Linked DNA regions of Homo sapiens. The protein of the gene in region 2 purifies or fractionates together with the protein of the main gene of each other region. This does not show direct contact. Each region holds a gene or a part of one and is shown on either strand. Other genes may lie near its edges.

Region 1 (11,855 bases), on a different chromosome or scaffold from region 2:
TCCGTAATTAGTCTGTAACAGGTAATGAGACACCTGGAAGTGGCAGGTCCAAAGGGCCGAGAAGTTGCAAAACCTGTTCTGAATCAGAATGAGATGTGATGTCTTCTGAAGAGAGAAAACACCCAGACCAAAAAAGGGGCCGACGATAAGTTAAAGTTTGAGGCGTCCTTTGAACAGAATGGTTTCTTAGTAATTGAAACCAGTTTTGAAAATCAACTCGTTTCATTTTACATTTAAGAGCCGGGCATCGTTAATAAGCCAGTTTTATTTCCTTTTATGTTGGTACCAATTTGTTACTGCTAATGTAGGTATCTAATCTTTTTCTGGATTTAAGAAGTTGTGGAGGTAATGGAATGGCTTTAGTTGACTTGTTCTGTAGATTGATAAGAACACTAAAGCAGTCTTTTTCAAGGTTATAAATATAGATACAGGCACACACATGTGTATATATATGTATATGCCTGTATCCAGTAACCACAGATAATATTACTTATCAAATGATTTCAAAGTGAGCAGAGCTTCACACTTTGTGGGTATTATCCATACATTTAAAATATTATTTTTATTTATTTATTTTTTGAGGCAGAGTCTTTCTCTGTCGCCCAGGCTTCAGTGCAGTGGCGCAATCTCAGCTCACTGCAACCTCTGCATCCTGGGTTCAAGCGATTCTTGTTCCTCAGCCTCCCGAGTAACTGGTATTTACAGGCACCCGCCACCACGCCCGGCCTATTTTTGTATCTTTAGTAGAGACAGGGTTTCGCCATGTTGGGCAGGCTGGTCTCGACCTTCTGACTTCAGGTGATCTACCCACCTCGGCCTCCCAAAGTGCTGGAATTACAGGTGTGAGCCACCGCGCCCAGCGGTAAAACAGCATTTTAAGACATGCTTAAAGGTATAAAGATTAATACAAAAATCACCAGTTTTCTCTTTCCCCTGAGCTGGAGAATCGAAACGTTACCGAAGTAGTTGGTTTTCCCTTTATATCCTTTCCCGTTTTCCTTTCTCCCTTTTCTGTTACATGGCTGCTGTCTTGTCTTTTTTCGTTGGAGGTGTCCTTACTCAGACTAGAGGTAATAAAAGATGTAAGGGGAAAATGTAGATGGTGATGAAAGACATCCAGTGGCTACTTTTATACTCGCATAATTGTTCAGGCCTCCTGAATCTCCATTTCTACTTAGAATTTTTCTCTTCCTCTAACTTTCCTGTTGGAAAATTTAGAACCAGTGATTATTCTGTTATTTTATTCTTATTCATTCATACAGCCATAGGCCAGTCTTCAGAGTTTAGCATAGGAGATACAAAATTAAAGAATAAAGATACCTTACTTCTTGGCAAAGTATTCAAACATCAATAAACGAGACAAACATGAAAAAAAATGCAGTGTGGTAAATTATTTAACAGATATGTGTAAAAATATAACGTTGGCTGCAGCACAAGGTATACTTGGACGTAATGTAATGATGAGTAGGAATTTGGGTGGCATGCTAGACAGACCGAATAGAAGGGACGTGTTATTCTAGGCAGAAGAGCTAATATGCAAAAGGGAGAGGAATGAGCTAGTTTGGTACTTTTAGGGAAGCTGAAAATAGTTGAGCTTGGCTGTGTGTTAGTTTGCTTGCGAGGAGTGAAGAGGAGATGAGATTGGAAAGACAACCAGGAGAACCTTATCACAGAGGGCCTCCAGTGTTGACTAAGACATTAAACTCTCTAGAGCAAGGAATGGGACTCACTGAAGGGTTTAATCCACAGATGTATCTTAGCCTATATTTTTGTTTTCTGCATCAACAAAATTAACTACCAATCTCAGCATTTTCCATTTTTGTAACTATATTTATCTATTCCAGTGGAATTAGATATATTAGAATAACAGGCCCAAAGCGCCACCTCACACCAACTAAATTAGATTGGGGTGAAGAGGCCTGGGCATCACTGCCAAGGTAAATCGAATGTGCAGCCAGTGTTAAGAACTACTGATCTTACTTTATGTGCTCCTTTCCCGTGTCTTTCTTCCAGTATTTCCACATTCTCATCCTTTTTTTTCCTGTAGCATTTTAGAGTCTCATGCGTCTTATAAATTAGATACCTTTCTGTGAATAAGTATACTAAAGCGTGTGTTGTCTAAGTAAAGCAATGTAAAAGTTAATTCCTGCAATTTTGTATTGTTTGAACTGGAAGCCTGTTTACTTCGACAGTTATTATTCAAGGAAATAATTTGGAATTCTGATTATCTCTGCAAACATTTTATATGTTAATGTAGTTCTGTGAAATACATATGTGTTATGTGTGTTTGATAGCTCACCTCTAAAGTTTTGCATTGTTTTTTAAATTTCTTTTGAACTTTTGTAGGCATAGTCTTTTTCTCTCAGTGTTATGATTGTGGAAACCTGTCATCAGTTATTTCTTTTTTTGTTGTTTGTTTGTTTTTTTTTTTTAATGAGATGGAGTCTCACTCTGTCACCCAGGCTGGAGTGCAGTGGTGCGATCTCGGTCCACTGCAACCTCCATCTCCTGGGTTCAAGCAATTCTCCTGCCTCAGCCTCCTGAGTAGTTGGGATTACAGGCGCACACCACCACTCCGGCTAATTTTTGTATTTTTAGTAGAGGTGGGGTTTCACCATGTTGGTCAGGCTGGTTTTGAACTCCTGACCTCAGGTAATCCGCCCGCCTTGGCCTCCCAAAGTGCTAGGATTACAGACGTGAACCACTATGCCTGGCCCAGTGATGTCTTTAAATTTTATTTATTATTGTTATATTTTCTGTCACCCAGGCTGGAGTGTAGTCCTGTGATCTCAGCTCACTGCCACCTTTGCCTCCCAAGTTCAAGCAATTCTCCTGCCCCACCCTCTGGAGTAGATGGGATTACAAGCACCTGCCACCATGCCTGGCTAATTTTCGTATTTGTAGTAGAGATGGATTTTACCATGTTGGCTAGGCTGGCCTCGAACTCCTGACCTCAGGTGATCTACTCGCCTCCCAAAGTGCTGGGATTACAGGCGTGAGCCACTGCACCTGGCCAGTTATTTCTAGTGTTACCCAGAATTAAGAACAAATGAAATACAGTTTTAATTGTAGTTCTTTTTCAGAACCATGTAACAGTAACATCTTAATTTCATAATTTAATCATTTCTTTCCAATCCATGAATTTCATGTTATCATTTTGAACACTGGTTGCCAATTGCGTATGATTATTGTCCTTTACTTCTGACTGCTCAGATCTCAGATCTTGTGGCTCACATTTCTCTCTTTAGCTTATTCTGCTCTTTTTTTTTTTTTTTTTTTTGAGATGGAGTCTCTCTCTGTCGCCCAGGCTGGAGTGCAGTGGCGTTATCTCGGCTCACTGCAAGCTCTGCCTCCCGGGTTCATGCCATTCTCCTGCCTCAGCCTCCCAAGTAGCTGGGACTACAGGTGTCTGCCACCACGCCCGGCTGATTTTCTGTATTTTTAGTAGAGACGGGGTTTCACCATGTTAGCTAGGATGGTCTCGATCTCCTGACCTTGTGATCCTCCCACCTCGGCCTCCCAAAGTGCTGGGATTACAGGTGTGAGCTACTGCGCCCGGCCCCAGCTTATTCTGCTCTTAACTCTGGACTGTAAGCAGGTTTCAAACACACTAAACTTAAACTTATCATCTATCTGCATCCTGTCTTCCAGACCATTCTTTGTTTTTGTTTTGTTTTGTTTTGTTTGAGACGGAGTGTTGCTCTGTCACCAGGCTGGAGTGCAGTGGTGCAATCTCAGCTCACTGCCACCTCTGCCTCCCAGGTTCAAGTGATTCTCCTGCCTCAGCCTCCCAAGTAACTAGGACTATAGGCACCTGCCACCATGCCCGGCTAAGTTTTGTATTTTTAGTAGAGACGGAGTTTCACCAAATTAGCCAGGTTGGTCTTGAACTCCTGACCTTGTGGTCTGCCCACCTCAGCCTACTGAAGTGCTGGGATTACAGGTGTGAGCCACCATGCCTGACCTGGCTAACTTTTTTCTTAAGAGATGGGATATTACTGTATTGCCCAGTTTGGTCTCAAACTCCTAGATTTAACTGATCACTTCTCCTTGGCCTCCCAAAGTGTTGGAATTACAGGTGTGAGTCATTGCACCTGGCCTAAAACATTCTGATTTACTGTAACTGATAGTAACAGTAGTGTCTTTTTTTTTTTTTTTTTTTTTTTTTTGAGATGGAGTCTCGCTCTGTTGCCCAGGCTGGAGCACAGTGACCCGATCTCGGCTCACCGCAAGCTCCGTCTTCCGGGTTCATGCCATTCTTCTGCTTCAACCTCCCAAGTAGCTGGGACTACAGGCACCCGCCACCATGCCCGGCTAATTTTTTTGTATTTTTTGTAGAGACAGGGTTTCACCGTGTTAGCCAGGATGGTCTTGATCTCCTGACCTCGTGATCCTCCCACCTCGGCCTCCCAAAGTGCTAAGATTACAGGCGTAAGGCACCACGCCTGGCCTAACAGTAGTGTCTTAACCTAACATTTCCTCATGTTAGGGACCTACCTTTCAAAATGGTGCATTATTGGTGAGTTTTACCATCACAGGCCTTCAGTATTATGTGAAGCATCATAGTGCAAAAGTGAAGCAAGGAGCAGGATTGTTTGCAAATGACCTGGGTCTTCATTTGAGTTGCTTCAAGAAGGAGCCATCTGGTACTGTCCTTCCATTCCTTTCTCCCAACAGGATTATCTGCCTTCAAGTTTTGCTTATCTTTAAACTAGTGGCTTCCTTCTCACCACTGCAGGCATGTTGTTTTCTGTAGATGCTTGGTAGGTGGAGCTTCTAGCTGTCACCAAAATTTAGAATGCTTAGTGCCAGGCAGTCTGTTTGTTCCTCACTGATAAAGGTTCTTGTACTTTAAGGGATAACAAACAGGGTAATACTTAAAGATTAGCTTCATTAGAGGACATGTAGCCAAGCTTGGTGGTGTGCACCTGTGGTCCCAGCTATTCAGGAGGTTCAGGTAGGAGGATCACTTGAGCCTGGGAGGTCGAGGCTGCAGTGATCATGCCCCTGCACTCCAGCCTGGGCAACAAAGCAAGACCCTGTCTCAAATAAATAAGGAGAATTATAGTGAGTTATACTAAGCAGGCAAGTTTTGTTTTGTTTTACAAAGCAGCTTCTACCATAGTGAAAATAGCCCTTCCAGAGGACCGTGTCTGTTTATCCTGCACTGTAATAGGCTGTATCTAGAGTGTGTAGGTCATTGGAAGACCTGCACATCTCAAGAACTTAAATTTTCTTGGTCCCTCTTTTTTTGGCTGATGAAGTTTAGAACTTCAGAGTAGGAATATGAGCTGATAGTTGATTATATGACCAGAATGTTGACATTCACCAGAGGTCATCAAGAAGAGCGGGATTCTGATATGAGATGTGCCCAATCGTTGCCTACAAATCAACTGTGTTGTGATTCTGTGGAAACTTCCCTACTTACCCTGTTGATGTTAACTTGTAACTTTTTAAGCATTCTTCTGCCTTGGAGAAGGGGATCTTTAGTATACTTGGCATAAGTGAAAATCTAGGAAAGATGGTATCTGGGTTGTTTTCTGTATTCAAAGGACATTGCAGAATATATACCACTTAACGGAATAATTAGATGAGCTTTAGCAACTACTTATTAAAAGAGGTGAATATTTAGTGCATGGCACCCAAAGGAGGAAAGAACTGAAGAGATTTTCATTGTACAAAGAGCAGAAACAGAATCTGCTCAAAAGAACTGTAGAAGCCGGTTGAAAAAATGTTAAACAATGAGTAATTGTGTAAAAACTTGAGAGTATATGTTTGTCTTTGTGACACATGAAACGTTTCAATTTTAAGCTTACATGGGATTTTTAAGTGAGAGGAAGAAACAGATCCTGGTATACATAGGTGGGGAAACTTACAGATATGAAAACATTTTGATAAAAAGCTAACTTGATTGGTACAGAGCTAAAAAGGTGTGTAAAACAGGCTTTTTAAAAAACTTACATTTAGGTTATAATTTTTGCCTAGATTAATATTTGGGTCTCCTCTCCCCTAGATGCAATATAAGTGACCAACTTTGCTGGTGTTTCCTGCCTACCCATCTCCCACATTCTTTTACATGAGAACTAGACAGAGAATCAATGATAATTGATTTTGTTACTTAACCTAGGTAGCCTTAACATCATAACATTTCTTTCTGCATTTTAAGTCTAGTGATAGATATTCAGTGAATGATTCTCATTAATGAGCTAACTAATAATCATTGTTGAAAGCATGTAATTGCAGTAATGCAGTAGTGTTAAATGTTTATGATTTGCTTTCTTTTTGTAGAACACAAAGTAATTATAGTGGGACTGGATAATGCAGGGAAAACCACCATTCTTTACCAATTGTAAGTATGGGTGTTTATTAAACAGTTTTCACTAGTTATTGAAACTAATGTGTTTACAATTAATAAGAGATGCATTATAATAATGACGGAAAAACTTAAATATATGTTTTTTGTTTTTTGTTTTTTTAATTTTACCGAACACAATCTATAGAAAAGTGAGTGAAATAAACATTTGCTAAACCCTTCACAAACACTTATTGTTTTCTGCCCTCGAAAGAAAGAAATTAATATTAAATAAATAAAGCGCATATTAGAAGTGCTGGGGTGAGGTGATAAAGTGGATTTCACTTAGTTCTTACCCCACTTGGGTTTATGTAAATAAATTGATAGCTCTAGGAAGCCATTGCTACCCTCCTGACTAATAGCTTTGGAATTTTTTAACATAGCCAGACTTGTCAAAAGAAATGTGATCACTCCTGAAAATATTGCTGTAGTAGCTTGCAAGAGGGAGAGTCTTGAGACTTTCAGAGAAATCTGTTAATACCTTAGGAAATTTTCACAGCTCATCATTCCACTTGTCAGAGTACCTTCCATTATCCTTTCAATGCCAATGAAATGATAGTATTAAGCAGTAGAAGTGGATCTACCAGGCACTTTAACAAAATAGTTCTACAGTTCTTTGCCCCATTGTGTGGCTCTTACCTCTTCCCACTCATGTTGCATTAGAAGACAGCCATCAGCTCACCAGAAGTACTTCATTAGCCAGTGATTAACGCATTTTTCAGCTACTTTGCTAAAAAGCTACTGACTTAAAGTTTGTTGTTTCAGAGTTGAACAACTACTTGTTTCTCTTGAAAACATTTTCATTCATTGGTGATTATGTGTTTAAATATGAATTAGCTTTTAAACATCACATATAAACATTTCAGAAACCTGTCATCTTTGTTGAAATAATTTTACACATGGCTTCAAAAATATACATAAAACCCAAGAGAATTGCAAGCCTCCTCCAACACAGTAGTGACATGTTACTGGCAAGGGCATATTTGTTGAATTAATTGATTAATGTAGCTTTACCAATGATTATGATAATACGAGGGGTATGAGCATCAGTATTCTAAATATATATATATATATATACACACACACACAAACACACACACACACATATTTGAGACAGAGTTTTGCTCTGTTTCTAAGGGTGGAGTGCAATGGCGTGATCTCCACCTCCCAGGTTCAGGCGGTTCTCCTGCCTCAGCTTCCAGAGTAGCTGGGATTACAAGCGCCCACCACCACGCCCTGCAAATTTTTGTATTTTTAGTAGAGACGAGGCTTCACCATGTTGGTCAGGATGGTCTCAAGTTCTTGACCTCAGGTGATCCACCCAAAGTGCTAGAATTATAGGTGTGAGCCACCACACCTGGCCTTCTAAATATATCTATAGTTAATTTAAATTTTTACTTGCCCATGGTCATCTTTTTAGGACTACTTTAGATTAATATGCCTGAATTAATTTTTGTGACTAAGTCTCAATTTAGACAGTCTTCAAAATTATAGATAGCCTGCTATCCAATATTTGCTATTTTGCAATCACCTAGAAACTTGCTTTTCAGGATGGCATGGGACATTGGGTCTTATCTAACTGATAACAGGGCATGGTGGTATTGGAATTTTTGGCCACAGAAATGCAAATTCACACCACACTGTTTCCTTTCTTTTCCATCAAGCTTGCAATTCCTTCCGTTAAAAAAAAAAACAAACAAGAAACAAGTCTTTCTTCTGGAGTTGTTATCTAGATATTGATTTGCGCAAGTGTTCTCCAGGTTTATAATTTTCATGCTAATGATCACCATCATTGGTGCAGAAGGTTGATTGATCTTAAAAATACAGAGATAAAAGTTGCTTCAGATTCTCAAGATTTACAAGAGCTTTTACGGTGTCTGTTTTTCAACAGCTTAATGAATGAAGTGGTTCATACTTCTCCAACCATAGGAAGCAATGTTGAAGAAATAGTTGTGAAGAACACTCATTTTCTTATGTGGGATATTGGTGGTCAGGAGTCTCTGCGATCATCCTGGAACACATATTACTCAAATACAGAGGTATGCTAAGATGAATTTTGAATTTTAATCCAAAGGTCCCTAGAGTAAACATAGAAAGTAATTAGGCTGCACCTGGGCGTATTGACAGTTGCCTTTTTTTTTTTTTTTTTTAAGACGGAGTCTTGCTCTGTCGCCAGGCTAGAGTGCAGTGGAGTGATCTTGGCTCGCTGCAAGCTCCGCCTGCTGAGTTCAAGCCATTCTCCTGCCTCAGCCTCCCAAATAGCAGGAATTACAGGCGAGTGCCACCACACCCGGCTAATTTTTGTATGTTTAGTAGAGACCGGGGTTTCACCATATTGATCAGGTTGGTCTTGAATTCGGGACCTCGTGATCCACCCTCCTTGGCCTCCCAAAGTGCTGGGATTACAGGCTTGAGCCACCGTGGCCGGCCTTTTAATAAGATCCTTTTTTGTAGGGAATTTGGGTTTCCTTTTTTTAAAAAATAAATAAATAAAAATTTCATAAATGAGACTTAAGAATTTGGGTTTTCGAATAAAAGAAAAGGCAAATAGAAAGATTGTTTGGAGCTATTATTACTTGAGTGCTTACTGTTTGGCCAGGTTCTCTCCATTCATCTTCACAAGATTTTCATGTCTCCAGGGTTGGAGAGATCTGACACGTGGAGATATTATGTAGGTTTCCCCAAGATCTCACAACTTTCTAAGAGACCCTGACCGGTGGAGGAATAAAATATTTTATTAATTTAAAAATTTTTTATACCATGAACATTCAAAATGTTGGTAGATTTTTTTTTAATTAGAAAAAAGTAGATTTGCAAATCATCTCTCAAAGTTCTCTGCCACTTATGAGTTCAGAGCTAACTTGGGGAACAAACCTGGATATATTCATGTTCTATTTCTGCTTTTATTTCTTATTAGAGGCAGATTTTTTTAAAAGCCATTCAATGTAGTTTAGAGAGATTTATCCTTGATAGTATGATTTCACAATTGCATCCATTTAATTGTTCTTTGCAAAGAAGTACACCTAACCAATTATTTTTTTCTAAAATGAAACCTTTTAAAAATTGGAGTTGGGCCAGACACGGTGGCTCACGCCTGTAATCCCAGCACTTTGGGAGGCCGAGGCGGGTGGATCATGAGGTCAGGAGATTGAGGCCATCCTGGCTAACACAGGTGAAACCCCGTCTCTACTAAAAATACAAAAAACTAGCCGGGCGTGGTGGGGCAGACTTGTAGTCCCCAGCTACTCAGGAGGCTGAGGCAGGAGAATCGCTTGAACCCAGGAGGCAGAGTTTGCAGTGAGCCGAGGTGGCACCACTGCACTCCAGCCTGGGTGACAAAACGAGACTCTTATCTCAAAAAAAAAAAAAAAAAAAATTGGAGTTGGAAGGGAAGAGGTAGAAAAGGATATAATATGAATAATTTTTGGTGAACAAAGTTGCCTCTTTAAAAAACATGTATTGTTCTAGATTTATATTATAATAGCATGTGTGTATGTGTGTATATATTCCAATGCAACGTGTAAGTAAACAAAGATGGCGTATCATAGATAATCAGAACTTGTGGTAGCACTGAATTATTTTATTGGGTATGCAGAAGCTGTAAGCAAATAATATAGTTAAAGGGTAGCTTATACATTTATACAGTAAAATAATGTTCTGAAACTAGAATAAGTTAGAAAGTAAGGGAAGGGCCAGGCGCAGTGGCTCACTTCTGTAATCCCAGCACTTTGGTAGGCCGAGGTGGGCAGATTGCTTGAGGCCAGGAGTTCAAGACCAGCATGGCCAACATGGCAAAACCCCATCTCTACTAAAAATACAAAAATTAGCCAGGCATGGTGGCATGTGCCTGTAGTCCCAGCTACTCCAGAGGCTGAGGCATGAGAATCGCTTGAACCTGGGAGGCGGAGGTGGCAGTGAGCTGAGATAGCACCACTGCACTCCAGCCTGGGTGGCAGAGTCTCGCTCTCTCTCAAAAAAAAAGAAAAGAAAGTAAGGGACAAATGACATTGTAGCATATGATTAATTTAAACATCAGAGCTGTTAGTAGTTTTAAGCTCACAGTTAACTCCAGCTGTGAAAAGGGCAGTTATCATTGATGAATAGGTCAAAGTTGATTCTAGTGAATCCATATGTACTTAAAGTGTGTCGAAAGGGTAGTTCTTGAAGTGACTGAAACTCTGGAGGACTTAGCATGGGTCCAGAAAGAGATATCCATTACTGATGCCATTTGCATGAAACGTTCTTTTAATAAGTGATCTCTACAAGAATATCAAAATTACTACAAAGAACAGTGGCGCCTGTCACTTTGCATTTTGAAAATTCTTCACGTGGAAGAGTCCCCCAAAAGCGGTAGTATGTCCATTATAATACAAGAAGTTACAGGTATTAAGTAATTATTGACACCTTCCTCTCATTAACTCACAGTTGTTTCCCATATTCTGTTGATTCCTCCTTTGCCACGCGACATTCTTTCCGTTTATTCCCTTCTAAGCCCAACTCAGTTTATATTCAGATTAGTTGTCTGTTTCCCTAATTTTATTTATTTTTGTTTTTTATTTATTTATTTTTTTGAGATGGAGTCTCAGTCTGTCACCCAGGCTGGAGAGCAGTGCAGCCTCCGCCTCCCAGGTTCAAAGGATTCTCCTCCCTCAGCCTCCGAAGTAGCAGGGACTACAGTACACACCACCACACCTGGCTGATTTTTGTGTTTTTAATAGAGACAGGGTTTCACCATGTTGGCCAGGTTGGTCTTGAACTGTCCTCAAGTGATATGCCCACCTCGGCCTACCAAAGTGCTGGGATTACAGGTGTGAGCCACTGCACCTAGCCTGTTTCCCTAATTTTAAAGTCATCTCTGTAATCTAATTCTACCCTTCATGTCTCAGTTTATTTTGCATCTATCTCCTGCTGTAATAACATCATTTCATCTCATTTCTTAACTTTTTATTCTGTATACAGTGTTCAGCTTAAGGGTGCTTTTTCGCTGTATCATCTCCTCCATCTCCTCCTCCTCCTCCCCCTCACCCACCCCCCACATTTTTTAAAAAATGAGTTAGGGCCTCTCTCTCACCCAGGCTGGAGTGTAGTTGCATGATTCTCAGTACAGCCTCAACTTCCTAGGCTCAAAGCAGTCCTCCCACCTTAGCCTCCCAAGTAGGTGGGACTATGTGCATGGCTAATTTTTATTTTTTGTAGAGAGACAGGTTCTCACTATGTTGCCCAAGCTAGTCTCAAACTCCTGGGCTCAAGCAGTCATCCCACCTCACCTCCCAGAGTGCTGGGATTATATGTGTGTGAGCCACAATGCCTGGCCTATATCTTCTTATTTTTTAATATGCAAACTCCCTTTTTTCATGTATAGCTTTACCAACAGATTTCTCCTCTTTTTTCTGGTGTCTTGCCTTTATTTAATTTCACCTGAATCTCCAGTATATAATGCCTAAGTATATATGTTTCAATCTGGAGCATTTATGGTGGATACTGTTTTATAAAATTGTCTTAT
Region 2 (12,430 bases):
TTGAGAGGGAGTCTCGCTCTGTCGCCCAGGCTGGAGTGCAGTGGCACGATCTCGGCTCACTGCAACCTCTGCCTCCCAGGTTCAAGTGATTCTCCTGCCTCCCAAGTAGCTGGGATTACAGGCGCCCACCACCAGGCCCGGCTAATTTTTGCATTTTTAGTAGAGACGGGGTTTCACCATGTTGGCCAGGCTGGTCTTGAACTCCTGACCTCAGGTGATCTGCCCACCTCAGCCTCCCAAAGTGCTGGGATTACAGGCGTGAGCCACGGCGCCTGGCCTAGGCTTTTCCACTAATGAATAAAACAATTTACTCAAGGAAATATCTGATATTAAATGTTAATATCAAATTTTCCTCTTTACTCACATTCATAGTTCTCTGAAAAGTGAGAACTCACAGGACAGAACCAAAATTAAGGAAAAAAAAATGTTTTAAGCAATGAATTCAAATTTTATATCGAAGGGCATAGCCAGAATACCAAAGTATATCAGGTGAATGAAGGTCCAGGGATAAGAGACAAATGGAAAGAAACACATGAAAGAAGGAACCCAAGATAAAAACCATATTTACTTACAGGATCAACAAAATCCATATTGAGTCCATAACAAAGCTTCTGGATTCGAGATGTAATTTTGTCAAACATGACTCGTTCTTGGCGGCCATCTAAAGAATCAAATCATGTTAGCAATTATTAAATTCATGTTAGCAATTATTAAGACTACAATGTCAAAGAATCAAATGTAATTAACATGTAAATTGACCAACATGAAGTGCTATTTCACAGAAAAGATTGAGGCCCCCTCAAAAGATTCATGAAGAGATTGTCTTCTCTGATGTCACCTTCAAAGAGTATGAATTCTATACAGACAGACGTTTACGGATAATTTCCTAAATTTTTCCCCCATCCCACATGGCAGCCAAAATTACCCTTTAAAAGTTAAACTCAGAATCATATCATTACCTCCTTCAAAACTCCTAATAGTGGCTTATGATCTCCAGAATAAAAGTCAAAATTGTTATAACAATCCACAGGCCAGGCCTAGTGGCTCACACCTGTAATCCCAGCACTTTGGGAGGCCAAGGGAGCGGGGGGGGGTGTGGATCACTGGAGGTCAGGAGTTCGAGATCAGCCTGATCAATATGGTGAAACCCCGTCTCTACTAAAAATACAAAAAATTAGCTGGGCATGGTGGCAGGGGCCTATAATCCCAGCTATTCGGGAGGCTAAGGCAGGAGAATTGTTTGAACCCAGGAGGCGGAGGTTGCAGTGAGCTGAGATCACGCCATTGCATTCCAGCCTGGACAACAAGAATGAAACTCCAACTAAAAAAAAAAAAAAATCCACAGAATCCTATACCACTTGTCCTGTGCACCCACTTCCCAATTTCACCTCCAACTCTCCCACCTTCCTTCCTATTGTACCTTGACAACTTGGCCTTCTTGCTATATATCTCCTTTAGGTCTTTTGCTCAATGTCATCACCTTCTCAATGTGGCTTTCCCTGATGATTCCATTTTAAATTGCAATGCCCCAAATAGGACCCTTGCTCTTCTTATCCCCCTTCCCCTTCTGTGCTTTTTCTCCATTGCACTTACCCCATCTGACATACTATATATTTTACCTAATATTTTTCATGATTTTGGACTTAGATTATATCTTTGTCCTTCTAGACAAAAAAGTCTTACTACTCTTAGTTTAACCTCAAATAGTAGCTCATCCGACCTTTATTTATTCTTACCAGGAATAGTGAATATATCCAACCACCAAACAGCCTTAACCTTAGACAAGCCACAAAACACAATCAGTCATTTCACAGATCTTCATTTGTAGAAAGGGGTTAATTATTATATCTATTTTACTTGCCTAATCAGTTTACTGTGACAATAAAATTAGATAAGGTAAAAAGTGCTTTTGTTGTAACAACTTTGGCATAGTTACAACTATACCTCGTTATAAAATAAAGCTGCTCCTATGGGGGAAAAAAAAATCACAGTATGTGATACACAATAGGCACTCAATAAATGTTAGTGTCTCACACTGATTTAGTTTTTGTCTCTTTTGTGCACCTACAATCCATTGTAACTATAGGCTGAGTATCCTTAATCCAAAATTCCAAAATCCAAAACACTCCAAAATCCAAAACTTTTTCAATGCCAACACAATGTTCAAAGAAAATGTTCCTTGGACCATTTCAGATTTTGGATTTTCTGATTAGGGATGCCCAACCAGTAAGTATAATGCGAATATTCCAAAATCTGAAACAAATCCAAAATCCGAAACACTTCTGGGCCCAAGCATTTTGAATAAGGGATACTCAACCTGAAGTAACCAATAAGAAACATGCTAAATATGTTTACATTTATTTGGCCCTCTGATTCACATCTGTATTCTCAAATTTAGTGCCTAGAACAAGGCAAGTTCTCAAACATTTGATGAAGAATAAATGAACAATAAGACATCACTATTAACCCATTATCACTAGAACAAGTTGCTTTTTCTTCTACACTGATATGTTAGCCCCTCTCTTTCTGATCACCATTGTGATAATTTTCTCATCAGGCTCACATCTGCAGCATTTAACTCTGAAATGGGGTAAATTAACTGGCTGGCACTGGGACTGAAACCTCAGTGCTCTAGCAATTGGATAACTAAGCAGGCAGGTAACTGCAAAGCAACATTAGCGTTCTGCAATTATACATGCAGTGGGGGGGGAAAGCAACTTAGCAAAAAGAAAATTCTACAACTGCCAGAAGTTCTGAAGTCAATCAGGAAACTGACAAAAAAAAAAAAGTGCATTGGTAATTATCTTAACTCACACTTGAAAATAGGAGGCAGACTAAAGATCTAAAGGTCCAATGACACACAGTTCTCTATTCTGTCATTCCACTTGGTTAGTTTTTCAAGCCAGATGTTGATTTTATCACATCACTAATCCCTGCTTCTCACTGCCTACATTATCCTCTTCTCTCAAGCAAAGCCTTTCTTAGTTTGGCCCCAGATCTCTTCAACTGTTCCCTGTGAAATATAAGTCCCAAGAGGGCTTCCCATTCCCATATCCACATCATTGCTTATACCTTACTCTGCCTAAAGGTTCCTCTTCCACCTTTCCATACATCTAACTCCTACTCACCCTCCAAATCTCACACCTCCATAAAACCTGCCTCAACCACTTTTAACTCACACTGACCTTTTCCTCTTTTAAAATCCTCTAGCCAGCAGGGCATGGTGGCTCAGCCTGTATTCCTAGCACTTTGGGAGGCCAAAGCAGGCGGATCACCTGAGGTCAGGAGTTCGAGACCAGTCTAGCCAATATGGTGAAACCCCATCTCTACTAAAAATACAAAAAAAAAAAAAAAAAAATTAGCTGGGTATGCTGTAATCCCAGCTACTCGGGAGGCTGAGGCAGAATTGCCTGAACCTGGGAAGCAGAGGTTGCAGTAAGCCAAGATCACACCACTGCACTCCAGCCTGGGCAACAGAGCAAGACTCCGTCTCAAAAAATAAAAAATAAAATTAAAAAATCCTCTAGCATACTAGTGTGATTTCCTCTTGGCTATAAACTGTCTTTCATTCTTCTCTCTTCAGGAAGACTTCCCTAATCCTGTAAGACCAAGGATGCGTGCCTTTTCCACAGGATACAAACTTTCTAATTCCCTCTGCCGAGAATGTTCAGGCCACAGATCTCACATTACTAGCTCTTAATACTATTTAGGGTTCAGCTCAAATGTTGGCTTCTCAGAGAAGCCTTTCCTGGCTACCCAATCCAAGGTTATTTTCTCATTCATCTTTATCACATGATCCTGTTTTACTATCATCTCATTAATCAGTATCTGAAATTAACTGATTATTATGTTTACTTCTTATTTCTTATATACACTTACCACTCCCACCCACACCAAGAAGTCAACTCAATGAGAAATGTAATTTAGCTTTGTTCACTGCAGAATCTCTAATGCCTACAACGGTTCCTAGCACAAAGAGGTGCTGAATAAATGCTTTATGAATAACTGAATGAATGGCCTCTACTGCCTATACTTTACCTATCAGAGTATTTATCATATTTTATCATATTACTTCTTTATTTGTCTATCTTTCTCAATTGATTGTAGGATCTTTGGAAGCTGGAACCATGTCTGCCTACTCATCACTGCAATCCCGGTGAACAGCACGGTATCCACAGAGTTGTAAAATAATATTAGCAGGCTGTGAATGGAATAGGAAGGAAGGAAGGAAGGAAGGAGGAAGGGACGGAGGGAGGGGGAGAGGGAGGGGAGGGAGGGAGGAGGGCAGGAAAGAAGGGAGGGAGAAAGGAAGGAAGGAAGCAAGGAGGGAGGGAAGGAAGGGAGGGAGGAAGAAAGGGAGGAAGGAAGGGAGGGAGGGAGGCAGGGATAGGGAAAGAATCTGGAATAAAAGAAAGATTAGAGTGCAAATGGATGCTTTCAAAGACATTATTTCGTAAACTTTTGTATCATTTTATGTGTATCCACATATATACACATGTCTGTAAAATGTTTTGTTTTTTACTGTGAGTTACAATCCAAAGTTTTGAAAATACTACACTAAATTCCAAAACAGTTTACAACTCAGTTAGCTACTTTGTCATTTACTGCAATGGTTCTCAATGTTTATTTTTTTAACCATAATCTCCTTGAGGAATGATACTCTCCCATTAGGAAAAATAGCTCAAGATAGCAGATGAAAAAAACTCATCTACTATTCTCTTCTATCTAATAATTTTCATATGGATTGTTCCTAAATCCCTAACAATTTTAAGTTCTTTGAAGATAGAGCTGCCTTCTCCATTACTGCCCTCACAGTGTTTAGCAAGACATTAGCATATTCAGTAGGTACTTCAAAGTCAACTTCCAGTTGCCCTTGTTATTAAAAATAACAAAAACTAGCCAGGCGTGGTGGCACACATCTGTAGTCCCAGCTACTGAGGAGGCTGAGGCAGGAGAATCTCTTGAACCCAGGAGGCAGACACTGCAGTGAGCTGAGATCACACCACTGCACTCCAGCCTGGATGACAGAGCAAGACCCCATCTCAAAGAAAATTAACAAAAACTGTAGGAGTTAGTCTGCTATTCCACTGACATGCCAAAAATAAGGGGGTACAAAAAAAGTCCAGAAAACCAAAAACCCTATGCATATTAAAAAACATTAAAATATAGAAACATAGAAATATAAAAAAAAAAAGAAACAAACAAATCTAAGTACATGTTGTATATTAAGTCTTGCTGAATGCTACAATGGCAGAATCTACAGCATGAACCATCTGGATCAAATTGTGCTCTATGAAGGAATGAGAAAATAAGCTCTGCTTTTTAGAGCTAGTTATAGCTAGCACTTTGTGGTTTTTTTTTTTTTTTTTTTTTTTGAGACAGAGTGTCACTCTGTCGCCTAGACTGGAGTGCAATGGCACGATTTCAGCAACCTCTGCCTCCCAGGCTCAAGCGATTCTCCTGCCTCAGCCTCCTGAGTAGCTGGGATTACAGGTGCAAACCACTACCGTCCGGCTAACTTTTGTGTTTTTAGTAGAGACGGGGTTCCACCATGTTGGCCCAGCTGGTCTCAAACTCCACACCTCAAATGATCCACCCACCTCAGCCTCCCAAAGTGCTGGGATTACAGGCGTGAGCCACCATGCCCTGCCACGCCAGGCCAAGGTAGCACTTTTTAAACGAAAGTATTTAGAAGTAGACTCTAAAAGTTCAAAATTCAACACAGGGTTGAATTTTACCCATTCTGGTCATCTAAGTCCATACATTTTCAATTCATCTTTGTTACTGACTTATCATAGACCATCCTAAACATCTCTCCCATATCTAAAGATTTAAAAAATAGATGCTCAAGCCAGGTGCGGTGGCTCCCAGCACTGTAATCCAAGCACTTTGGGAGGCTGAAGTGGGAAGAATGCTTGAGCCCAGGAGTTCAAGACAAGCCTGGGCAACATAGCGAGACTCCTTCTCTAAAAAAATACAAATAAATAATAATGTAAAAAAATAAAAATACAAAAATAGATGCTCAGCTCTCACTCTTATGAATGGATCAATAAAAGTGCACTATGTTATTTTGCTCTTTGGTCAGCTAAAATGTGAGCTAGGAAAATTCACAGAATGATGTTCTCAAGATACCAAAAACAAGAAAGGCCACTACTGTCCACCTTTCCAACTCTTGTCTGTAGTTAAACCAATCTGGACATTGGCTGTAGTTAAACCAAATCAACTACCTGCTTATTCACAGCATTCATCGTGTCCTACATTTTGATACAACTATTTTCATTCATTCTTTAAGAATCTGTTCATGTCAGGTCCTGTGCTAAACGTGAACAGAAAAGTCTCCATCTTGCTTGTATTCCCAGCACTTTGGGAAGCCAAGGAAGGGAGGATGGTTTGAGGCCAGGAATTCAAGGCCAGACTGGGAAACACAGCAAGACTCCTTTACTACCAGAAATTTTTAAAAATTAGCCACTCATGGTGGTGCATGCCTATAGTCCCAGCTACTTGAGAGGCTGAGGCAAGAGCATCGCTTGAGCCCAGGACTTCAAGGTTACAGTAAGCTATGATTACACCACTGCATTCCATCCTGGGTGACAGAGCAAGACTCTGTCTCAAACAAGTCTCCATCTTTGAAATGTTCACAGCCTAGAGGACAAAATAGAAACAACCAGTCGATTAACCAGTATTTACTAAGTGCCTACAATTTTGAAATCATTGTATTGCTTTAACAAAGGCAAGTAGGTTCAACTCAAAACTTGTTCATACGTATCTCATGCGGTTGTTAAAAGTATGTTGCTCTTGTTTTTCCAACCCGATGAAGCCTGTTCCCAAGGCAGGGACTGTCTCCTCCTACAATCTCACAAAGCCAAGCAAAGGGCTGGGCACAAAGCGGGCACTTGGCAAGTCTAATGAAAAAGAACTGTTGAGAAAGAATACGAGTTCCTGACTCTTCCCAGTCCCCATCTTGTCAGAAGATGTCTCAGCCACCCTTCTCTGATTCAGCATCTCTTCCCATGAAGGGAAAGGAACTCGAGGGTGCTGTCTGTCTGGGATCTGTTTTTTCCACGCCACACTCCTATCCTCACCCCACAAAAGAGATCAGTAAACTGACAAGTGCCTACGGAGGGTAGAGAGGCCCCCTCCTTCTTTCCTAGCTGCCCCCCGACCCTGTGCCTAAGACAGCTCACCAACCCCACGGTTTTCAAATCAAACCGTATTGTCACCTATGGGTGACTTTGGGTCAGTCGGCGACACCTCGCTCTGAGCGTCAGTTTCCTCATCTGTAATAAGCTAATCATCTCTCAGAGGCTTGCAGGGAGGAATAAAATAGTGCCTGGCAAGTGCTCGGCGTACGCAGTCACTACTCGATACGGGGTAAGTGTTATCCTTTTGAAAGGCGGCAGGATGACAAAGCCGAGGGGGCGCAGCCTGAAGGCCCGAAGGAGGTTCGGGGCAGGCTGACTGAAGACAGAAGGCCGAGCGGGCTGACAGGGCGGAAGGCCGCGGCGGGAAATGCGGGAAAGGCGGGAAGCAGCGAAGGCGGGCGGGCGGTCTGGGCATCAGCTCCGGCGGCGGCAGCCCGCATCCCCTCACCTTCCTTCTCGCCCACCTCGTCCCCCCCTCACCTCGCTTGATCACATGCATCGCAGCTAGTGGCTGAGGCTCTGAAGGATCCAAGACTGGACTGCGGCTCTAAAGCGCCGGCGGGATCGAGAAGGTGACAGAGTGGGAAGGGTTAGGTTCCAGGCGCTGCTCAGGGGAAAGAACTGGAGTTGGAGCCAGACAGCACTTTCTTCAGAGCAGAGGCGCAACAATCCAAATCCCCTTCCCGCGCCCGCCACCCGTGACGCACAAAGGGGCGCGACGGGGTTCGAATGACGTTACTCGACGCTGCGGCCCACGCCCGGGGTAGGCTTCACAGACTGACAGGCGACGTGTAGCCGCCATGTTGAGTCTGGGCAAGACCCAGAAGACTACGCCTCTCCCATGGGCCCCATTGGATATGGACATGCCCGGCGGAAATGCTGCTCTCCTGCTACCATGTTTTGTGTGGGCAAGCCGAGTTCGGGACCCTCGGGGCCCTGGCGTAGCACCTAGAGCCCGCTGGGTCAGGCGCCGCCCTCTCACCTGCGCGTCTCCGCCGGAGGAAAGGCGGTTAATTTATTTTTGAAATAACAAAACCTAACCGGCGGGAACGTTTTTCTTGCTCTGACATTTATTATAATAATACTAACACTGCCGTCCGCTGTGGGCTCCAGCCCAGGCTCCACAGCCGTGGGCAGCTTGGAGCCCCAGGGCTTTTAGATCGGCCAGAGGACTGACACTCTGGAACTGGAAGAAAACCGCGCAAGGCCGATGGCGTTTGGATTTTATCCTGACGCAAATCAGAGCCCTGAGAGAATTTTAAGCAGGGCAGGGTCAGTACCCATTTGCTTTTAGGGTTCTTCAGTGGATGGTGGCAGAGACAGGGTATTTGCCTTGTGGAGGTAGGATGGACTTGGTGACTTAGAGTGGAGAATAAGAATAGATGAGAACCGTAATATGTAAGGCTGGTGTAGAAGCTTCTGATTTGGGCTACCCAAAGCGATCTTTATGAAATTTCATCTGTGGCATCTTTTCCCTAAAGCCTTTTCGTTGGTTTCTCACTGCCCTCCAGAAGCTGCCCAGGCTCCCTGTGAAGTAATTTCAAAAATCATGGAAAGTCGTAAGTGAGCCTGTAATTGCAGCATTTTGGGAGGCTAAGGCGGGAGCATCATGTGAGGCCAGGTGTTGAGATAAGCCTGGGCAACATAGTGAGACCCCATTTCTACAAAAAATAGAAAAAGTAGGCCAGCGCGGTGCTTCACTCCTGTAATCCCAGCACTATGGGAGGCCAAGGCGGGCAGATCACGAGGTCAGGAGTTCGAGACCAGCCTAACCAACGTGGTGAAACCCCCCCGCTGCTAAAAATACAAAAAGTAGCCAGGCATGGTAGCACGCGCCTGTAATCCCAGCTACTCAGGAGGCTGAGGCAGAAGAATCGCTTGAACGCTGGAGGCAGAGGTTGCAGTGAGCCAAGATCGCGCCATTGCACCCTAGCCTAGGCAAGAGAGTGAGACGCCGTCTCAAAAAAAACAAAAAAAAAGAAAGAAAAATTAAATAGATATGTTTTTTAAAAGTCGTAAGTGAAGTTATAGGATAGATAGGGTCAAGTTTACCCAGACATAGGGTTTCCCAATTTAGCAAATAAAAATGTGTCCCAGATACTGCATGAGAGAAAATTATACTTTAAAAACTGTTTATCTGAAATTCACATTTAACTGGTCATCCTGCATTTATCTGGTAACCCTGCCCACAGAGCTTCTGGGCATGTGCATTCAAGTTTCATTTTCCCTGGGCAAAGGAAAGATTGTCTCTTTATCCCATCATGCCACAGCACAGAGAACACAATGAGAGTCAAAGCCAGCAGTGGTTAAAATCTCCTACATGCTTTATTGGACTTCAAAGAATTTTATGAAATAACACAGAAAACCCCATTTGAGGGTGTCCAGGGAGTACAAGGCAGTCTGCAGCCTAGCACCCTCCTAAGACCAGCCCCAGGTATACCCACCCCAGGCCCAAAATAGGATCCCAGGATAAAGGTATGGCAGGGAGTGGGGCAGAGGAAAAATACCTTTACAGCCATAGCAAAAACAGGTAAGGGAGAGAGTTGTCTAGAGGGTGGGAAGGGTGGGGGAAAGTGGTCACACAGCCGCCTTCACCTATACCATCTTCCTTAGCCACCCCTTCCCCAAACTGGTTGTGTCCTTTTTGAGCCTCTGGCCAAGGCTACAAAGTAACATGAAAATGGGATCTAACAAGGGGAATATGCAGCGTAGGCACTTGGGAAATTCAGATTACTTTTTTTCCTTTTAACCTGTTTGTCTTTTGGTTCAAAAAATGACAGCATCCTTGCCCAACAACTCCAGGGCTCCATAAGAGCCCTGTATCATGGCTGTGGCTCTCCTGGCCAGGGGAGCCACTTGTCCTGAGCCCTAGGAGTATTGATGCTTGGGGAGCTTTGGGGCAGCACCTCTTAGAGACAAATCCTCCTGCAGTGTGGGGGAGCAGGGGTAAGAGGGAGGCAGGTGTGGGTGGGAGTAGAGAGAAAAAGTGACTGCCTTATAACCTACAGTTCTGGCATCCACTCATGCTCCAATGAACAGATGCCTCTCCCAACCCATTCCCAAGCCTGGCCTCTCTTTAAAAGTCTCTGGTGGGTTGTTCTCTGAGAATTGGTTTCACTCCCCCATGGATCCCTGGAGGCCTGAGTGAGATTAGGATGAGGCTCCTTCTGACCCACATCAATACCAAAGAACAAACTTCAAAGATTAGGCCCTAGCCCCAGTCTGGAGCAAACAGAACCACTGTGAGTGGGGTGGAACAGATCTGAGGCACACATGTCAGAAGCTACTCGTCCTATCTTCCCTGCAACTGCTAGGGGAAGTTGGGGAGTGGTGGGAGGGAGGAGCCCGAAAGCAAGAGACAGAAACAAGAAACCAAACCTCAAAACTGGGACAGCAGAGACAGAAGCTGAACCCCAGAGGTGGAGCTGGGAGCTGAGGGAACAGCAACTAAGACATGCACTGAAGTGGAGAGGGAGTGACAGCAGCAGCCCATGGTTGGGACGGAGGCAGGGCAGGCAGGCCATGGTGGTCAGTTAATAAATAATAATGAAGGACCCAAGGATGAGGGGGCAGGTATGTACAGTGCCCAGACCCCTGGACCAGCCCTTCCCATGCCCCACTCTTGGGGCCAGTTATCTTGAAGGAAGGGAGGGAAGGAGAGACAGAACACCCAGGGAAGGACAAGCTGTCCCTTTACTGCCACCCCATCCTGCCTACTTCTTAAGAGGCTTCTTAAAGATTTTGAGGGGAAACTTCTTCCGGCCTGGGCTGGAGTCTGTTTCCTCGCCAATAGAGCCATTATCCTCCTCAGCCACAGCCTTCTTGCCAGCCAGGTGGGGAATGCGTGTGTTTCGGCTGGCTTGCAGGGCTCGGCTGTCCCCAACTGGAGATGGTGTGTCTGGGTCTGGGGAGCTGGGGCTGTGAGAACGGGAAGAATCCAAATGTGGAGAGCCACCAGGTGGGGCTGAGGGGCTCAGCTCCATCAGGCTGTGGGCCTTGTCCAGCCCATGGTTCAGCGCCAGTAATGCCTTCTTGGCCAGGGCAGGGCTGTCAGGCAGTTTCTCCACCAGAGACCCTGGGTGGACCCCCTCGATCAGCCGGTGGCTGCCATTGGAAGTCATGGCATTGAGAGCCTCGTCTGCAGCACGGCTCATCTGAGGAGGTTTGGGGGCCACACGCTGGCGGTCACTCATGTGGAGGGAGGACTCCGAATCGGAATGGGTCAAATCCCTGCAAGACATGGGGCAGAGAGGAAGAAAGGGACATATATTGGATGAGGTGATAGGGGAAAGGCGAAGAGGAGAGAGGGACAACACGAGAAGACAAGGACAGGGTAGGAAAATGGGGATAGAGCGGCAGGAGAGAGAAATAGGATGAACAGGCAGGTGGGAAGGAGAGAGGAAAGAGGAATAGACAGAAGTTGAGCAGCCATAAGTATAGGATAAGAGAGGAGGCAGGAGGAGGGAATGAGGATAGATTGGAAAAGAGACAGGAAAAGGAGAGTAGAATTGTAGAGGAAGAAAAGCAAAAGGATAAGCAGGTAGAAAGAAGGGCCAAGAGAGAAAGACAAGAAAGGGAAAAGTGATAGGGAGGGAAGAAACAGATAAGAAACAAAAACAAATGTCATCATACCATCATCTGTCTGGCAAATGGTTTTCCAATACCTGGGCCCCACCAGTGGTGAATGCTCTGGCTCTGAACTGGTGCAGCCATAGGCTTAAATTCCACAGGCGGCATCCTCAATAAAATCTCTGCCTTCTCATAGCTGGCTGTATTTCCTGGGACTCAAGCTAACACAGAACCTACAGCCTGCTCCGAGTCACCATTTTCCATGCCTTCCTTCCCCACTTACTCCTGTCACACCTTAGGATATTATCCAGTCTGGGCCAGGCCCCAAGGAACAGGGCACATGCAGTCAGTGGACCTGACCCAGGCTGGAGATGAGAAGGTTAGAACAGCCTTGCAAATAATCCTTCACCCACCCCAAAAGGCCAGGATGCTGCCTCTTCTAACCATCTCATAGGATTCAAAGGAGGTCATAGATAGGTATTGCAGAGTTCAAACCAAAGTCTGTGGTGCGGCAGGAAGGGTGGGGTCTCTTTCAGAACTCTGCTGACGGAGAATGTAGGGAGGCATAGAAAGACAGGATGTTGGCCTTTAAAGAGCAGTGGTTCAGAAGAGGTCTGGACTCCTGTGTGATCTTGGACAAGTCAAGTCATCTAAACTTGCTAGTCCTTAACTTTGGCCTAATGAAGATAATACCAATTCAATTTATCTTACAAGACTGT

The links.
Region 1: the proteins of RRM1 (region 2) and ARL5B purify together in Homo sapiens (affinity purification with mass spectrometry; 2 studies listed by BioGRID and IntAct, with this or other methods). This does not show direct contact.

What each region holds. Positions count from the first base shown.
Region 1 is NC_000010.11:18,660,287-18,672,141, forward strand, and holds part of ARL5B (ADP-ribosylation factor-like protein 5B), read left to right. Parts: intron 1-6,288; coding exon 6,289-6,349; intron 6,350-8,243; coding exon 8,244-8,391; intron 8,392-11,855.
Region 2 is NC_000011.10:4,090,224-4,102,653, reverse strand, and holds the start of RRM1 (ribonucleoside-diphosphate reductase large subunit), read right to left. Parts: upstream 7,856-12,430; 5' UTR 7,642-7,855; coding exon 7,623-7,641; intron 662-7,622; coding exon 573-661; intron 1-572. Other genes in the region: STIM1 (stromal interaction molecule 1 isoform 1 precursor), read right to left, coding at 10,856-11,372. UniProt on the Homo sapiens protein: Provides the precursors necessary for DNA synthesis. Catalyzes the biosynthesis of deoxyribonucleotides from the corresponding ribonucleotides.